Homo sapiens: one gene and its partner. The protein of the gene in region 1 purifies or fractionates together with the protein of each later gene. This does not show direct contact. Each region holds a gene or a part of one and is shown on either strand. Other genes may lie near its edges. The genes, in order: RBM27 and KSR2.

What was found.
Region 2: the proteins of RBM27 (region 1) and KSR2 purify together in Homo sapiens (co-immunoprecipitation; one large-scale study listed by IntAct). This does not show direct contact.

The regions. Positions count from the first base shown.
Region 1 is NC_000005.10:146,283,546-146,286,927, forward strand, and holds part of RBM27 (RNA-binding protein 27), read left to right. Parts: intron 1-1,076; coding exon 1,077-1,187; intron 1,188-2,401; coding exon 2,402-2,485; 3' UTR 2,486-3,382. UniProt on the Homo sapiens protein: May be involved in the turnover of nuclear polyadenylated (pA+) RNA.
Region 2 is NC_000012.12:117,454,965-117,458,787, reverse strand, and holds part of KSR2 (kinase suppressor of Ras 2), read left to right. Parts: 3' UTR 1-3,823. UniProt on the Homo sapiens protein: Location-regulated scaffold connecting MEK to RAF. Has very low protein kinase activity and can phosphorylate MAP2K1 at several Ser and Thr residues with very low efficiency (in vitro).

The DNA of each region.
Region 1 (3,382 bases):
AAAAAAAAGGTACATATCTATATTTGGTAGGGCTATTTTGATACATCAGTTTGGTATGTCCCATGAGTCATAATGTTTGGTGTTAGGTTATGAGCATTTAGACCCTTCAAGGAATGGTGGGAATTTTTCCCTTAGAACACAGGACGATGTCTGTGCAGGCAGTAATGGATTTATGAGTCTGCTCTAATGTACATTCTCACCATGCTATGCTCCAAGTGTTTTATGGAAACATTTGGCAAATGCTTCAGGAGGTTTAGCAATGATTTTGCTAGATAGACTAGAATGAAAGCCCAAATAAAAAAGAATCTCTTCTATTATGTTTTTTAGAACCCCCAGTTCTATAAATGAGGACCTTTGATAGGAAAGCTATAGGGATGGCTAAACTTCTACTTTTCTGAAACTTTGGATCCCTAGTCCCTTGTCTGTGTTGCTTTGTCTTTAAAATTTGCTTTCCCCTATTGGAATTTGCTGGGGAGAAAAAAATGTTTAAAAATTAGTACCAAGTAACATTTGAAATGGAGCAGTTTTATGAGTTAGGATAGTATTAGGCATTTGTTTAATGTTTATTGAATGCATAGATGAGCTGGGAGGTGCTTATTAGTGTATAGCGTTTCAGAAGTGGAAATAAGAAGAACTTTATCCAACATAGGTGGGGCTGTGAGAGATGCAGTGAGATGAATAAGCAGATGATTCACCTTTTTTCTAAGGTTTGAGTCTATATATGTAGATATCAAAGCCAAAGGTCAATACCTGTATTAAGAATATTTCTTGTCCTCATCATGACTTTTGTAAGTAGAGCAACTCTACTTAGAAAAAAAATTATTTCTTCAACCAAGACAGATGCTAACATTTACCTGACACAGATATAAACCATGGGTTATCCTAGGCAAACCAGAACATATAGTTGCTCTAATTAAAAGGGACTTTATTTTTTTTAGCTCTCATTGGAGATTGTAGATCCACCTTAACAGATTTCTCTCCTGCCCTATGTTATACTTTTTAAATAACACAGAATTTGCAGAAATCATTAGTAAATTTGAGTGCAAACTTGTATGTTCTTCTAATATATATTTTAGACCGCAAACCAAGGGCCAAAATTTAAAGACCGTCGGCTACAGATATCATGGCACAAGCCCAAGGTACCATCTATATCCACTGAGACTGAAGAAGAAGAAGTCAAGGAGGAGGTAAATTTAGTGGTTGGAAATAAGAGTTGAATTAGATCACTTCTCAATTATGTATTTTTTATGATATTAAATAGTATAAATTAAAAAATGCTGGGTTTTTCTTTCATGCATGCAAATTAAGACCCGTTTAGATGTTTATTAGAGAATTAAAACAGGTCTAGAGATATAAGAAGCTGTGTTAGGGGTTATTTTCTTCTGATATAGGAAAGACTGTTCTTTTTTGTTTACATTTATATTGGATTTATTTGAGCTCTAGAAATTTTTATTCTGATGAATAAAGTCAGAGATTACATAAATGAATTAAACTTTAATTGGTTGGTTTCACTTTTTGTTTATTCAAGTTCCATAGTAATAGATTTGAGTTTCTTATTTTCCTTCTGTGTACAATTGGTTAAAATCAGAGTGTGCAGAAGTTGAACATAGAGGAGAGAATTGGAAAACTAAAGACCTAAATAATAAAAGTACTGAATAATCAGCTTCTTAAAATATATGAGAATTTATTTTGCTTTTTTACTCCTGTTGTTTATCATTAGTTTATTTAGTGAACACTTAGGCTATATTGCGAGGTTTTCCTGATTTATATGACAATCTTGGTTTTAAAAGATACCTAGCTAGCATTTATAGTTTGATCAAGTGTCTTCTCACTATATAGGTAATTTTACACAGCAAAAGCAGAAATGTTCCCTAGATTAAAAGAAAAACAGAAGTCATGGTATTTGGGTAGTGTTTGCAGATACATCTACTTTGTCTAAGATTTTAGATTTTTATATAAGATTTGGAATATCAGTGTCATGGGGAAGCTAGTATATTCACCTCTCACAAACAATTGGATGGATATAAAAACAAAGATTTAGGTGTTTGGTCATTTATTTTCCTAATTTTTTATAGAATAAAATTAATTTTAATTTATCAGAAATGTATCTCATAGTCTTTTTTAAATTTTCTGTACTAAATGTCCACATTATTTTCCTGATGATATTAGAGTAGAAATCTCCTATTAAAAGTAGCAAAATTAGCAGGGGAGAAGAATTCATATTCATTTACAAAAATATTTTGGGCTTTTTTTTTTTTTTGCCCTGAAAGATACTCTTGCATGCATCCCTTATGAAATCTAGCCTGGGCTTTGTATACTAGCCTGTTTGTCCTTTGGCCTAAAAAGTATTTTACTTACCATTCTTGTGCCACTAAGCAGATTTTAACCTCTCTTTCTTCAGGAAACAGAAACCTCAGATTTGTTTTTGCCTGATGATGACGATGAAGATGAAGATGAATATGAGTCTCGCTCATGGCGAAGATGAAATCTGATGCTAGCTGTATAATTTTTAGGAATATTGTTTAGAAGAACAACTTTTAAAAATTATTTAAAAGAAGTCAATGAGCCAAAAAAAATTTTTTTATTTTTCTTTTCAACACAGTAGGTTCAAGAACAGCAAGTTTGCTATTTAAACACATCTCATAACTGTACATGATATTAAAGCACCAAAGGCCTAGTGACTTTTACACAGTTGTGAAGATCCACAGCAATGACATGGATAATCTCTAGAGCCTTATTTTCCACACCACCTTTTTTTTGTTGCTGTTGGTGTTGGATTATGATGTAAATGACAGGGTGTTCAGAAATTTTATTTTGGATTATAATCTACTGATAAAATTTAATTAAATGTCAAAATCACCTGTAATCTTTTAACTCTCAGTTGTTATGGATGGGTCATCAGACAGTAGGAAATATTTGTAATTAAAATACCCTTTTGCTTTCAAGAGTGGTCTTGGAAGAAAAATATGTTTATTTTAATTTTAATTTTTTTTTTTTTTTACTTTGGAGGAGCCCAATTTGTATTCAGTCTAAATTTGTTTTTCATGGTTTTTATGTGTGGTAGTACTAGTTCAGTGAAAATCACAACAAACTGTGTGTTCTTAAATGCTACAGCAATGGTAGCTAGCTCTATAGTATTTCCATTCTCTTGTCATATGAACTCCTGGACTTTTCCTGCTACTGATTCTTAGTTTGCTTTGATATTTAGTGAGCGCTGGTTCGGCTGGTCTTTTTAAAAATTTTTATAACTCAGAATGTAAAAGGCTTTCACCTATTGCCCCTTTCTCGTCCCCCTTTTCTTCCTCTTGCCTTTCTATTAATAGGCCTGACTTAGTCATCATTGATATAAGTGGTTCATTTGGGCAACCGCAGGCAGTCTCCA
Region 2 (3,823 bases), on another chromosome or scaffold:
AGATCTTGAGGTCCTAGTGGACCACCAGCTCTACTCCTGAGCTCTTGAAATACCTCTAATCACCAGCTCGGTGGCTGAGAGTACCTTCTTGTCCACTGCCTCTTCTTTTCCTTCTCGTCTTCACTTATCCCCCATCCAACTTCTGCCCGATAATATCTCCCCTGTATTGTAAACTGAGGAGAAAGTTGCACAATTGTAGAGATGAAAAATAGCTGCCATGTATTTAGCTTAAATTAGCTCAGAAGAAAGGCTCCCTCCCTCCATTGAGCGGGCAGCACTTGTTTATGCCAACATGCTATTTGCATCGCGCCTTCTTAAATTTGAAAGTCTAATGATTAAAAACAAATCTTAGTTTTTCTTTTCCACCACTTAAAAAAAAAAAACCAGCTTGGCTAGTTCTTCTAGTTTAAAAATACCCTGACCTCCAGCACTACAGTGAGAATTTTGGAAAGGCTGGTACCAGGATATCAGGAGGAAATAAATACAGGCCAACAATAACCAGAGGCCTTTTCTGAGTGGTGGGCGACAGGATGAACAAGGTAGAAGAGAGGTCTTTGTGTCCTCACACAGATGCTGGCATTCTGGGTTTGTCTGGAATTCAGTGAACCTCTGTCCTCTCTGACAGAGATTTCTTCACCAACCATTCATTCAGTGGGTGATTTGTTGAGCATCTACTATGTGTTAGACCCTGGGCATTCAGTGATGAGTGATACAATGTCTCACCTGTTCTGAAGCCTAAAGCCCAATGGGGAAGAGAGACAAGAAGCAAGTCAACCACAAATATATAAATTTGCAACTCATGTAGATCTATGGAAAGAAAACTCACGGGGGACCAGAAACATGGGAGAGGGTATACTGTGGGAGAGCTGCTGACAAAGGTCTTTCTGAGGAGGTGACATTTAAGTCAAGATCTAAAGGAAGAGAAGGATAAAGAGATGTTCATTCTAAGCCAGGGTTTCTCAACCTCAGTACTGTTGAGCTATTTGGGGCCAGATAATTCTTTGAGGTGGCGACTGTCCTGGGCATTGGAGGATGTTAAGCAGCTTCCTCAACTCTCCCCACAAGATACCAGTAGCACCTGGTACTGGTGACATCCAAAAACATCCCCAGACACACCCTGACTTTGCTGTCTGGAATCAATCCTCATAAAGCCCCAAGCCTTGGAGCACAGAGGCTGGAAGCCCATATGGTGGCATGTCAGGCATGGTGTCACCTGAGCTTCTCTGACCCCCACTTCTGATATGGCATCCAGTTTGGAGTCTCTGTTCTCCATGAGCTCCCATAGCTGTCCCATATTCCACAAGGCATTGCTTCTGGGCCACGGTCCTCTAGTTCCAGCATAGCCCTATTTTTGGGTATGTTGGTGGATTTCAAAAGCCTCCAGTTGACATCCAAAGTGTGACATCCAAAACCATCTCCAGACATTGCCAGATGTCCCCTGAGTTGTCTCCAGGCCACGCGACTAGGATTCAAATCCAGCATCCTGCCATCTGCAACCTTCCATGGGAGAAAGGAAATCAGAGGAGAACAGGAAAACACAAGGAGGGGACTCCTTAAGTGAACATTGCAGGGAAATAGGTTTTTAAAGCACTAGTTAGCATCACCAGTGGTTTGAAGGCTGTCTAGGTAAGGAGAATGTGGACTTGCCTTTCACCGTCTGCACGGACAGGGGCTGAAATCTCCAGTCATTCTCTCCATCCTTCCACAGCCCTTCTAAGAAGCAGATCCTCTTGCTGAGCTGAAATCTTGAGACTTGCATCCGGCAATCTTGGTGTTGCTTTCTGAGGCTACTCAGGGAAAGCCCTTCTGTATTCCCCAGGAAGGAAAGTCTCCCAGATAGTGAAGGGCCTTTTCTACCTTCCTTGCAATTCCCAGTTCACTGTGAAGAAGAGAGTCAGGCCGGGTTAGAATGGCTGTCTCTGGTAGCAATGAAGCAACAACATAGACAGTCTGGACAAGATGTGGCAGTTCTGTCCAGTCCCGTGTGACTGATTTGGGCATGGAGACAGGCAGTGGGTGAGGATGGCCTCTGTAGGTCCAGCTGTTTTACCCCTAGAATCAAATCCCTGGAGCTTCCGGCAGTCCCAGGATTGGGAAGGGTAACAGAGAGGACGAGTCGGGCACTGCAAAAGACCAGATCTTGGAAAATTGCTTTGGGAATTGGGACACCTTCCAAGAAGACAGTTGAGTTGGCTGGGGCTCTGCCCTAGATGGGGTCAACCTCTCCCCAACACAGCCCTGCCCAGGTTGGGGCATTGGCAGCTTAAGTGCGTCCTGGACAACAAATGTAATGTATTGGTCCTGTAAGATTCTAGCCATTTTCCTCTGCTTATTTTTCTACATGTGTTACAAGTAATAATGTTTAGATGGGTACATATGAACTTGTGTAAGTTCAAGTAACTGCTATGTAGCTACAGCATGGGCATCAAGGTACTCTAAGGTACTTGCCCTGCCACACCGAGGCCCCCTGCCCCGGCCCCCTTTCCCTCCTAGCCAGCCTTCTAGGGAGCACTGCACACCCTGCCCCTTCAAAGCTATCTGGACAGTCCTGGCTCGACTGGAGCATTAAGGGAGGGGCTGTCCTTGGTCAGGCTTCTGCCCAACTGTGTGATGCATAAATCTTTGCCTGGCTCCTTCTTCCTTCTTTTCGGAAGTCTATCTCCTCCTGAGGGCCTCTGCGGTCCTAACCTATCAAGGAATATCATAGATTGTACTCCCCACCCCATCAAAACACACCCTGACTTTGCGTCTGGAATCAATCCTCATAAAGCCCCAAGGCTTGGAGCACAGAGGCCAGAAGCCCATATGGTGGCATGTCAGGCATGCTGTCACATGAGCTTCTCTGACTCCACTTCCAAGATGGCATCCAATTTGGAGTCTCTGTTCTCCATGAGCTCCCATAGCTGTCCCATATTCCACAAGGCACTGCTTCTGGGCCCCGGTCCTCTAGTTTCCTCATAGCCCTATTTTTGGGTACATTGGTGGATTTCAAATGCCTACAGTTGAGCAGCCGAAGGATTCTAAGAAAATTTTGCTTGTATTTCAAAGGCTCATGTCCCCAGCCCCATTCACTACACCCTCAGCAGAGCCCAGCGTGGAGCAACCTTGTCCCTTCATTCCCCAAATCTTCATTTTATATAGTCATTTAGTAAATATTTGTTAAGTGCCTCCTGTGATTCTGGAAAAAATGGAGAAAAGTGGGTGCTGCCTTCAGGGTACTAGGAGTCCGATGAAGAGAGGGAGGAGTTCCAGTAGGGTCCCGAGGCCCCACAGGAGCTCCCAACCCAGAGAAAGACCCTCCAGGAAGGATTCTCAGAGGAGGAGACTTCTGAACCCTGTCTTGAAATTTGAGTAGAATGGTAGGGAACGGTGTGTCAGACAGAAGGAACAGCCTATGTGTGGACTCAGAGGCAAGATCATGATTTATTGAGGGTAACTGCAAGTGGCTAAAATCCTGCCCCCTGGCACTTGCCTGCCTTTCCCTGCTTTCCCCAAAGCCTGATTTTGGGACCCTGGAGTCTCCATCTCCAAACAGAGGGTGCCCTGGCTCAGATGTGGAGACCTTGACTTCTTTCCCCAGCATGCTCTGGTTCCTACTGTTAGCCTTGGTGTCCTGTGGGGGAAGATGTCTGAGGAGAGTTTTGTGCTTGCTGGAGTCAGACCAGTACTCAGGCCACCTCAGGCCTGCTCTGCATCCCTCTCTGGCTCTACAGACCTCTCTCTCTCTCTCTCTCTCTCTCTCTCTCTCTCTCTGTCTGTCTGTCTCTGTGTCTGTCTCTGTCTCTGCCTGCCTCCACACAGTGAAGGATGTGTCTCTATTTCT